Homo sapiens: one gene and its partners. The protein of the gene in region 1 interacts with the protein of each later gene in a biochemical or structural test. Each region holds a gene or a part of one and is shown on either strand. Other genes may lie near its edges.

Region 1 (3,830 bases):
GGGAGGGCAGAGGGGCAGGAGGAAGAGGGAGAGCCGGCACAGAGTTCCTGGGATTAGATTCCCAAGAGAGGTATCTCTCTGGAAACCCTTGAAAACCTGGTACAAGTGCTGAGTTTCTTGTCTGGGTAGGAACAGGGACCCAGGCTATTTTATTTGGGCATTAAAAAACATTTGGGTTCATCTGAGTTATCCCAAAATTGCACTCACTACCTTCCTTGTAACAATAACAGCAAAAAATAATAATTTTTTAAAAAAATCCCACAGAAGATCCTTCAGCCTCTTCTTGTCCAGGAATACTTGCGTGTGTAAAATGATCTTGGAAGTGGAAAGGCCTGGAATTGGCCACTTTGTCGTTTGTCTAGGCAGGAAAACTCATGCATTTCAGAGAGAGAGTAAAAAAAAGGTTTTTTTGTAGTTCAAAAAAAAGCTCATAGATCTTTTAACACTATCCACATCATTAATATGTTTCACAAGCCACATCTGTTAACATTCAGGTCCAGTGGTTCTCAATTTTTTTTCCACCAAGTGGCACATGAGTCTCCTGCTCTTTGACATGCTTCTATGTTTTCTTTTTTTAACCTATCAAATGCCAGACCCCACACAATAGCTTTCTTTTTAGAATCCAAATGATAGAGCAGGAAAGAGTAAAATTTAAAATTATCAGCAACAGAAGGGCAAGAGATCCTCACCAAAAAAATTTAAAGGTATGAAAATATTAGTTATTGTTCCAATAAAAGTTATTAAATACTAATCCAGCCTTTTCTTTTTTTTTTTTTTTTGACAGAGTCCCACTGTGTGGCTCAGGCTGGAGTGCAGTGGCACAATCTCGGCTCACTGCAACATCTGCCTCCTGAGCTCAAGCAATTCTCCTGCATCAGCCACCCGAGTAGCTAGAACTACAGGCGGGTGCCACCATGCCCAGCTAATTTTTGTATTTTTAGTAGAGACAGGGTTTCACCACGTTGGCCAAGCTGGTCTTGAACTCCTGACCTCAAGTGATCTGCCCACCTCGGCCTCCCAAAGTGCTTGGATTACAGGTGTGAGCCACCACACCCGGCTATTTTCCATGGCAGTCAATTCTATGACCCACTTTAGGATCCTTAGCTTTAGAAAATCGGTTCATTTAAAGCATACCAGCTGACAATATTAAATTTAAATTAGCAGTTAATAATACCTTTTTAAGTTTCTGGCATCATTCTTTGAAGTTAGAATATTTTAAAACAACATTGTTTAAATCTTCAATTTCCAATTTATTTCTGGAATCTGCAAAATCAAAGAAAGACTTAAAAAAATTATTGTGGCACATGGTGAATGAATGAATAAAATTGGCAAGAGAATAATTTTAAAATCTAGTACTCCCAGGTATCAGACTACTCTCTGTACCTTCTTCTTTTAGGACAGTGTTTTCTAAATGTTCAACGTCCCCACCATAGTCACTTTTTTGTTGTTCTTGCCATAATTGAGTCACACCTGTCCTTTATTTGCTTAACCTTTTGCTTTCAATTGAGTTTTGAAAACTCTAATAATTTTAAAGGAATGTAATGTCACCATTAGAAACAGAAAAAAAATATCCTTTGCAATACATAGAAAGTAACACAAAAATTAATTCACCAGAAATACCACAATGTTACTGTATTCCAGCTAGTCCTGCTGCCTGGAAAGGCTCCAGGGTTGGGGCCTGTTTTCTCTCGGAAGCATTTGAGAGATGTTAAAGACACAGTAGCACAGAATTGAGACTTTCTCTTTAAGATCATCACAAGGCTGAGAGAAAACTGGAAAGAAGTCACTTCTCACTTTGTGATTCAGCATTTTGCAATGCCATGCTCCATTCTTTAGAAAGCTGGGAAGGGGTGTTGCACAGCTTCCTTCATCCCTCCTTTCCCGACCTTTGCCCGCCTACCACGAGGGGCCCGTTTTACTCACTGCTTCTGTCTCTTCCAAGCCTGCGATTCCCATAAAAACAGCAACTTGTCTTCCCAGATGTTTTCTGTAATCGCCGCCACAATCTCCACCTCTTGCCATCAAAGGCAGAAACCGAAGGAAAGTCTCCTGACTTACAATCACCTAAATAAAGCAATATATTATATGACAGCCATCTGGCAAGGAGGCTGCTTTATAATGTCCAGAGCCCTGGCTGAAGATTTAATCAGGTGTGCAGAGTTAGCTCAATTCAGCAAGAACTTAACAAGGTATGGATGTTGGAAGGGAAAGCAGAGAAACTGAACTCTGCCTTGGTAAACAGAATCTAAGGGTAGACCAAAACCATACCATGGGAGACTGGAGATCAATTCGAAGTTCATGGGCACTTATTACCAGAAACACCAGACAGCCAGAGATCTGCTGGCCCTGGGGGGCAATCCTTTCCTTTCTTTGCTTGGTAAAGGGTGGGTCCAGTTGATGAAGACGGTCTGGTCCTCTCTTCCAGGCAAAGAGAGGACGGAGATTGGGCTGGGGCCAGGTATCTGGGAGCTGGGTCTGCTCTCCTGGGTGGAGCTTTCCCAGGCCAGTGGTGCAGACCAATGGGGACTGAAGTTGGAGATCCTGGTAAGACAGCTCCAGGGATACCCAAAGGAAAAAACCAAGCTAATGGAGGCAGCCAGAAAACAGGACACACCGCAGAACAAAAGATGGATCACCAAGTGGAAAAATGAAGCAGAGGAGATCGGAGGAGGGTGAGTCCACCACCAAAAGCCATCTCCTGAGGCAAAGGCAGGTGGGGGTAGAGCCTGTGGGCAGTGAGGGAGCCCCGAAGGGAGCTGGGGGTTGCACAGGCATTTCCTCTCAACCGCTCTTCTTTCTAGCTTTCTGCCCTCAGAGAGGGTTAGTTTCCAGGGTAAGGGAATCCCAGGGGCAATTCACCACTCCGGGCTCCTCACAGAAACCAGTGCCCAAGTCCCCTCCTGCAATGTGATCTTCCAAACTAAAGAAAAGGTCTGCAGAGCCTCCAGGAGAAGATTCAGGGAAGCTGCTCTGGTGAAAAGGAAGCAGGGATTGCAGGATGGCGGATCTTCAAAGGGAAAAAGGAGACCATAGAGCAGCTCTGTTGAATTGAAATATGACACAGCTTTCCTAGTAATTTAAAACTTTCTAATAGCCACACTAATAAAAGTAAAAATGGACAGGTGAAATTAATTTCAATGATATATTTTAATTCTAATACACTCAAAATATTTCAGTATGTCATCCATACAAAATTTATTTATTATTATTTTTTGAGATGAAGTCTCACTCACTCTGTCGCCCAGGCTGGAGTGCGGTGGCGCAATCTCGGCTCACTGCAGCCTCCGCCTCCCAGGTTCAAGCAATTCTCCTGCCTCCGCCTCCTAAGTAGCTGGGATTACAGGTGCACACCCCCATGCCTGGCTACTTTTTGTATTTTTAGTAGAGACAGGGTTTCATCATATTGCCCAGGCTGGTCTTGAACTCCTGGCCTCAAGTGATCCTCCCACCTCAGCCTCCCAAAGTGCTGGGATTACAGGTGTGAGCCACTGCACCCAGCCCATCAACAAAAAATTTATTAATGAGATAGTTTACATTCTTTTTCTTCATACTATGGCTTGGAAACCTGGCATGTGTTTTAATCGCACATCTCAGTTTGGATCAACCACATTTCCAGTGCTCAAGAGCCACATGCGGCCAGGGGCTACTCAAGTGGACAGTGCCACTCCAGGGCAATCACTAAAAGCTAGGGTGTTGAGACATCAGAGTTCCTGCCTGCTGCCCTTCCATTTGAAATACTGATGCCAGGAATGATCTTTGTTGTTGTTGTTGTTGTTGTTGAGACGGAGTCTCGCTCTGTCACCCAGGCGGGAGTGCAGTGGCACAATCTT
Region 2 (3,830 bases), on another chromosome or scaffold:
GATAAACAGAATAAATCCAATTTAGTTACTTCAGCAAGACAGCCCTTTCAATATTTGAAGATAGCTATGAGCTGTCTCCCAAACCCTCACGTACAAGTGCATTTTATCCATCTCCCTGATAAATACCCTTTAGTTCCTTCAACTCGTTTTCTTATTACATGGATTTTAATCCTTGGTGCTATGTAGATGCATCATTTTGTTTAAATCTCACTTAAATGTTGATCGTCAGAACTGAACACAATACTATTTTTGGTGCGGTTTGATGAATGCAGACTTTAGTGAAAGTGTCATTTCCTTGGCCCTAAATACTTAATAGTTCCTTAATAATTCATCAGCTTTCCAGGGGTAGTCATATCACATAGTTCAAATTGGGCTTAGTGTCAACAAAAAACCCTTGGAGGTTCTTTTTGCCACGTATCGTTGCTTAAGCCACCTCTTCTTAAGCAACAAAGTACACAAAATAATGTACTTTGCAGAATACTTTCTAGATATGATCAAATTTTATCTTGTTAGATTGGAGCAATTGCTTCAGTCTCTTAAGACCTTTTTGAATGTTATTTCTATAATCCAAAGGTTTTAAGTTTCTCTCCAAGTTTTGTGTGATGCTGAAATTTAATTAGCTAATTTTTTGTATCTTTAAGTCATGATTAAATATGAACCAGTACAGAGCTTGAATCAGAGCTGTATCACATGGCCATAAGAACCTTCATCTGGGTCAATATCAGTCCTTTTGTTAATCCGCGCTTTTGGAGAACACTCATTCAGTTTGTCTGGAATACTCCTAAAAGTGCTATTATACAGCCCATATTTCTTCATTCTGTCCTTAAAAATTTTTCTGAAAGTCTTTGCTTAACTGCTTTTCTCAGCTGTTCTCATGACTTAGTCATCTTGGTCCTTTTCTGTGAATTCAATTTTAAAATTCTTGATTATTTTTATTTTTTTTCTTAAATTGACTCTTTTATTGTAGCAAATGAATGAAAAATTCATTTATTCTACCCCTCCTTTTTGGGAATGGAGGCCATAATTTTTTTTATCTCAAATTCATCTAAATGCTAATAAAAATTATGTATTTTGTTAAAATTGGTAAAAAATATAGGAGGTAAACAATGGAAACAAATGATGTGCTGCATGGAGCTCATTTCACTCTGCTGAATTCTAAAGTATGCAGTAAAATATTTTAAGTAATTTCAGTGTCTTTTAGGATTTCCCATACTCCCTTGTCAATTAAATATTATTTCTGTTCTTACATTTTGTCTTACATTTTTAAAAAATAAAGTAAAAAATAAGGAAGCTTTTAAATATTTAGTTATAAGATACTGTATAATATGTGCATAAGATTTACAACTGAAGCAAAACTGTACAGGACATATCAAAGGCACAGAATATTGTCACTGATAATTCTTTAGGCACCCATTGTATTGGACATAAATATGTTTTCTTTGCAATTATACTGTTTCCATGAAATACTTCTTTTAGTGATCAGCATAAAATTGTATAATAATTACCTTTACAATTTTGAGATTTAGTGTATTTCTTAATTTAAGGATGCTACCTTTAGGGCATTATTAATACAACTGTATAAACCAGAATTGTAAACAATGACCAGTGACAATTGCATGAGATGTGAGTAGACTTGGCAGCTCTGTGAGATGTAGGAAGCACATGGTATCAAGCTATATGTCATGAAAAGTAAGGTGTGCAAGGTACACACTCATTGAGAATATCAGACAAAAAATGCCTCTGCTCAATTTTCAAAAATTAGTCTCTCTTTTGAAATTTGTAATGTTATATTAAACTTTAACTCAGTATGTATTGCTCCTAGAGTTATTTGGCTCAGCAGTGTGGAATTTAATTTTGTAAGAAGTTGGGGGAATATACAGAAATAAAATATTAAAATATATTACATTTTCTCTGGTTTGATATCTAAATACAGTGAATATACAAAAAGATAGTTGACTTTTGGACTTTTTAAAGAGGAAATTTCTTAATTATTTGCTCTTGTCCCTTACAGATTGCAGATTTTGGTTTATCAAAGTGGCGCATGATGTCCCTCTCACAGTCACGAAGTAGCAAATCTGCACCAGAAGGAGGGACAATTATCTATATGCCACCTGAAAACTATGAACCTGGACAAAAATCAAGGGCCAGTATCAAGCACGATATATATAGGTAGAGTAAAGTTGCTTCTGCTCAGATTTAACCTTGTCTCAGACACAAAATTAGTCAACCAGAATTTTGAAGCTACATTTTAAACTGTGATTTTTATTCTTCTCTCATAATTGTGGTGAAAATAAACTTGAGGCCCCACGGTGATTAATATTTTTCAAATTAAGGAAATTTAATGATTTGCTTTAAGAAACTTTTACATCCTTTAAGAAATTTTAAAGCATCTCTTCTTATCCTATCAATTTATAATATAATAGTTAAGGATTTTTATCATATGTGACTTGGAAATGCAGAGGGAAACAGTGGTTCCTAACATTTTAGCTTTAGGTTTCTCAACCTGTTCAACCTTTTAGCTTTTGATATCTATATATCTTTTTAGATAAATAGACAAACTCTTAATCACACTGGGGATATTTCTATTTAAAGAATCCCTAATATTTGTATATGTGTGAATTTTTTATACAACAAATCAATGGGTTTGATAAGATCATATTTTCATATTTCAGATGCATATTACTTATAATCTCATAATGCAGTAATAAGCATAACACATTGTTATTGACACTGGTTATTTAACCAGAATAAAAGGAAGATGATTATTTACACAGGTTTAGGAGATGGGGACATTCACCTCATGTATAAGTTACTCTTATCTCTTTTAATATACTAATGAATGCAAAAGCAGACTCTCTAAGTTTGCTCTGAACACATTTTATAGTCCTTTAAATGGCTTTTTGCCATCTTTAATAAATAATTTGTTAATGAATCATTTTAGGAATGAATGCTATATCTCTACCAGAAAACTATATATTTAATTAAATTGCATATTCCTTTTCTTCAAAAGCATTTTAATTTTTGTTATTTCTCATTAAAACCAAAGCCAGCCAATCCATTTTAGTGGCTGCACTAAAACAATTCATACAGTGTCTTTTACATTCACATTGTATGAATATAAGAAACTGTCCTTTTATATTTTGTTTTCTGATATTTTTAATTCATTCTGAATGATGTACTGAGGGGAGGAGAAATGTATTTATAGCTTCCTAAGGTAGAGATCATGTTCTACCCAACAATTCTTAAAGCTGGTTTGATTCTATAAAAATGGGCCAATAAATCTGCCAGTCATTCATTTTGTGAATTTTCCCTTTATGTTCAATTTCAATATTCTCTGTCAGGGAAAAATGAGGAAATATTATTCCTTCATTTGGGTAGGAATTCCCTCTGTACTCCTCGCTCTCCCTGTAACACAAGGTGTTAGTAGTAATAAATTCTATGTGTCCATTTTGAATGCATGGTTAATGTTGGGGTGTGGCAAAATTCTTATATCCTATTTAACCATTTATTCTAATTATAAACTCTATGCAGCTTAACCCTGTAATTGACATCTGAAGTTAAACTGTAGGCAAGATATTTCTACTACCAAAGAAGATAGTGCTGAGAGCAGAAAAAAGGCAGTAGAATAGAGCTCCATGAGACAATTTTTTTCTTGTTCTTTGTTCTTTGTGAAAAATAATATCATTTAATTAAAGGGCATAGCTTATCTGGGTGTCCAAGAATTAAATCATCCACAAAAAGTTAATCTTGCATGTAACGTTAAGCTTGTATTACAGTAATTTCCTAATTTTTTAACTTAAAGTTGATTTTGTTTCCAAACTACATGAGCA
Region 3 (3,600 bases), on another chromosome or scaffold:
TAGTCCCAGCTACTCGGGAGGCTGAGGCAGGAGAATGGCGTGAACCCGGGAGGCGGAGCTTGCAGTGAGCCCAGATAGCACCACTGCACTCCAGCCTGGGCAACAAAGCGAGACTCCATCTCAAAAAAAAAAAAAAAAAAAAGCTGGGCATGGTGGCAGGCTTCTGTAATCCCAGCTACTCGGGAGGCTGAGGCAGGAGAATCGCTTGAACCCAGGAGGCGGAGGGTGCAGTGAACCAAGATTGTGCCACCGCACTCCAGCTTGGGCAAAAGAGCAAAACTCCGTCTCAAAAAAAAAAAAAAGGACAGGTAAAATTATAACAGTCCATACCTTTAAATGATTATATACCTCAAACTCTACAGCCATGGTGTGCTTAAAAGCATGAAAATCTGGCCAGGCTCAGTGGCTTATGCCTGTAATCCCAGCACTTTGGGAGGCCAAGGAAGGTGGATCTCCTGAGGTCAGGAGTTCAAGAACAGCCTGGACAACATGGCGAAACGCCGTCTCTACTAAAAATACAAAAAATTAGCTGGGCGTATTGGCAGATGCCTGTAATCCCAGCTACTTGGAAGGCCGAGGCAGGAGAATCGCTTGAACCGGGGAGGCGGAGGTTGCAGTGAGCCTAGATCGCACCATTGCACTCCAGCTTGGGTGACAGAGTGAGACTCTGCCTCGAAAAGAGGAAGGAAAAAAAAAATAGCCTGGGCACAATGGCTCATGCCTGTAATCCCAGCACTTTGGGAGGCAGAGGTGGGGGAGCAGATCATGAGGTCAAGAGTTCGAGACCAGCCTGGCCAACATGGTGAAACCCCGTCTCTACTAAAAATACAAAAATAGCTGGCCCAGGCACCTGTAATCCCAGCTACTTGGGAGGCTAAGGCAGGAGAATTACTTGAACCCAGGAGGCAGAGGTTGCAGTGAGCCGAGATCACGCCACTGCACTCCAGCCTGGGTGACACAGCGAGACTCCATCTCAAAAAAAAAAAAAAAAAAGCATGAACATCTAGATTCACTAAGAGTTAATTTAAAGTTAGTGTTCAGCCAGGCACAATGGCTCACATCTGTAATCTCATCACTTTGGGAGGCCAAGGCGGGTGGATCACATGAAGTCAGGAGTTCGAGACTGGACTGACCAACATGGCAAAACCCCATCTCTACTAAAAACACAAAAATTAGGCCAGGCGTGGTGGCTCACCCCTGTAATCCTAGCAGTTTGGGAGGACAAGGCAGGCAGATCATGAGGTCAGGAGATCAAGACCATCCTGGCTGACACGGTGAAACCCCATCTCTACTAAAAAAACAAAAACAAAATTAGCCTGGCGTGGTGGCGGGCACCTGTAGTCCCAGCTACTCGGGAGGCTAAGGTGGGAGAATGGCGTGAACCCGGGAGGCAGAGCTTGCAGTGAGCCGAGATTGCGCCACTGTACTCCAGCCTGGGCAACAGAGCGGGACTCCATCTCAAAAAAAAAAAAAAAAAAAAAAAAAAAGATTAGTTGGGCATGGTGGCACGTGCCTGTAGTCCCAGCTAGTCGGGAGGCTGAGGCAGGAGAATCGCTTGAACCCAGGAGGCGGAGTTTGCAGTGAGCCAAGATTGCGCCACTGCACTCCAGCCTGGGTGACAGAGCGAGACTCCATCTCAAAAAAAATTAATAATAATAAAGTTAATGTTCTTTTAAGTAAAGGATTCATCCACAGTTCTTTAGAGTATGCACTCTTAAAACTGGAAAAACTTTGTTCTAAAAAATTTAGTTTGCACGTTACATTTTTTGGGGAAAAAAATACCTCAACTGCAGAAAGTACTCCCAGGATAAACTTCTCTTCATTCCAGGGTTAACAGAAGTGCAGTTTTACAAGTTTAGCTTCCTACTAATGTAGCTACTAAACCAACAGCTCTCTTAGCTTTTATCCCCCTTCTAATTCATGTCTGATGTTGCCTCCTGGACTACAGTGAAAGTTCCTCATGGACAAAAACTTCTTTTTCTCCTGCTCCTCTTTCCACCATGGTATGACTGACAAGTAACTGTGTAAAAAATTCCTATTATCTCTTCACAGACAATGTAACATTATAAAATTTTACATGCTATTTAGAAAGTTCAAAATATGTTTTCTTGGTAAAGAAAACCAAAAATCTCAAATGACACCCCTTTTTAAAAGCAGCACTGTCAGAGATTATGACCTTTGTATCAGGGATAGTTTTACAATGAATTAGGGAAGAATACAATTTTTCAAACCATGTTAATGAGTATGAGCATTAAAATTCTAGGCTGAAAATTTTTTTTTCAACTACACAGCTCTGGTAAAGGGAATAGAAGGACTTATTTTGGGAAAACAGATGGATTCTCTGTGTAGATACCAATTTTGGAGGGGGACAATTTTGTCCCATTCCTCACGTTTCTATACAAGGAAGGGAATTTCCTCTTTGTTCCCCAGAAAGAAAATGAAGAAAAACACTTAATTTAGCCCTCATTATAAAATAAAAAATTAAAAACAGGCCAGGAATGGTGGCTCACACCTGTAATCCCAGCACTTTAGGTGGCCAAGGTGGGAGGATTGTTTGAGGCCAGGTCAAGACCAGCCTGGGCAACATAGGGAGACTCTATCTCTACAAAAAATAAAATTAGCCAGGTGTGGTGGCATGTGCCTGTGCTCCCAGCTACTCGGAGGCTGAGGCAAAAGGATCTCTTGAGCCTGGGAGGTTGAGACTATGGTGAGCTATGCTTACGCCACCGCACTCCAGCCTGGGTGACGGAGTGAGACCCTGTCTCAAAAACAAACAACAAAAAAGCCCAAGCCAACCTCCAAAGTGTCCCAGGCAAAAATGTTGCTATAACCCAATATTCAGTACAACTCAGACACATATTAACTACTGTCAGCCAAATACTACAGGAATAGAAGGTAAAGAAGCAATCCTGAAAAATTTAGGTTGCAGCCTCATTAGAATCTCTGAACTTAAATTTGGGCAAAATCTTCCAATGAGAACATGATCTCCCAGTGAGAGAATAACCTTAGCATCATATTGAAGGGCAAATCCACTTATAGTTATCATCTCTGAGAGGAGCATTTGCAACACTCCAGCCTTCTGGAAAGTTCAGAAATTTGAAGCAGGGGAAGCCCCTGTCACTAGTATATTTGAAGTATTTTTTTTTTTCCCATCCAGCATTTTTTTTTTTTTGGTGGTTTTGAGACAGAATCTTGCTCTGTTGCCCAGGATGGAATGCAGTGGCGCAATCTCGGCTCACTGCAACCTCTGCCTCCCGGGTTCAAGCAATTCTCCTGCTTCAGCCTCCCAAGTAGCCGGGATTACAGGCACCCACCACCACACCCGGCTAATTTTTGTATTTTTAGTAGAGACGGGGTTTCACCATGTTGTCCAGGCTGGTCTCGAACTCCTGACCTCGTAATCCGCCTGCCTCAGCCTCCCAAAGAGCTGGGATTACAGGCATGAGCCACCACGCCAGCCCCATGCAGCATATTTGAAAATTTTAATTTCCATCTCCCCTTTAAGCCCCATATTTCCTGGCATCCCAGTGCTGAAATGAACATAATTCCTTTTCTTTTTTTTTGAGACGGAGTTTCGCTCTTGTTGCCCAGGTTGGAGTG

What was found.
Region 2: the proteins of NOD1 (region 1) and RIPK2 form a complex in vitro, tested with the Homo sapiens proteins (one study listed by BioGRID).
Region 3: the proteins of NOD1 (region 1) and RNF34 form a complex in vitro, tested with the Homo sapiens proteins (one study listed by BioGRID).

The regions. Positions count from the first base shown.
Region 1 is NC_000007.14:30,457,978-30,461,807, forward strand, and holds part of NOD1 (nucleotide-binding oligomerization domain-containing protein 1), read right to left. Parts: intron 2,065-3,830; 5' UTR 1,924-2,064; intron 1,264-1,923; 5' UTR 1,175-1,263; intron 1-1,174. UniProt on the Homo sapiens protein: Pattern recognition receptor (PRR) that detects bacterial peptidoglycan fragments and other danger signals and thus participates in both innate and adaptive immune responses.
Region 2 is NC_000008.11:89,767,761-89,771,590, forward strand, and holds part of RIPK2 (receptor-interacting serine/threonine-protein kinase 2), read left to right. Parts: intron 1-2,011; coding exon 2,012-2,169; intron 2,170-3,830.
Region 3 is NC_000012.12:121,410,118-121,413,717, reverse strand, and holds part of RNF34 (E3 ubiquitin-protein ligase RNF34), read right to left. Parts: intron 1-3,600. UniProt on the Homo sapiens protein: E3 ubiquitin-protein ligase that regulates several biological processes through the ubiquitin-mediated proteasomal degradation of various target proteins.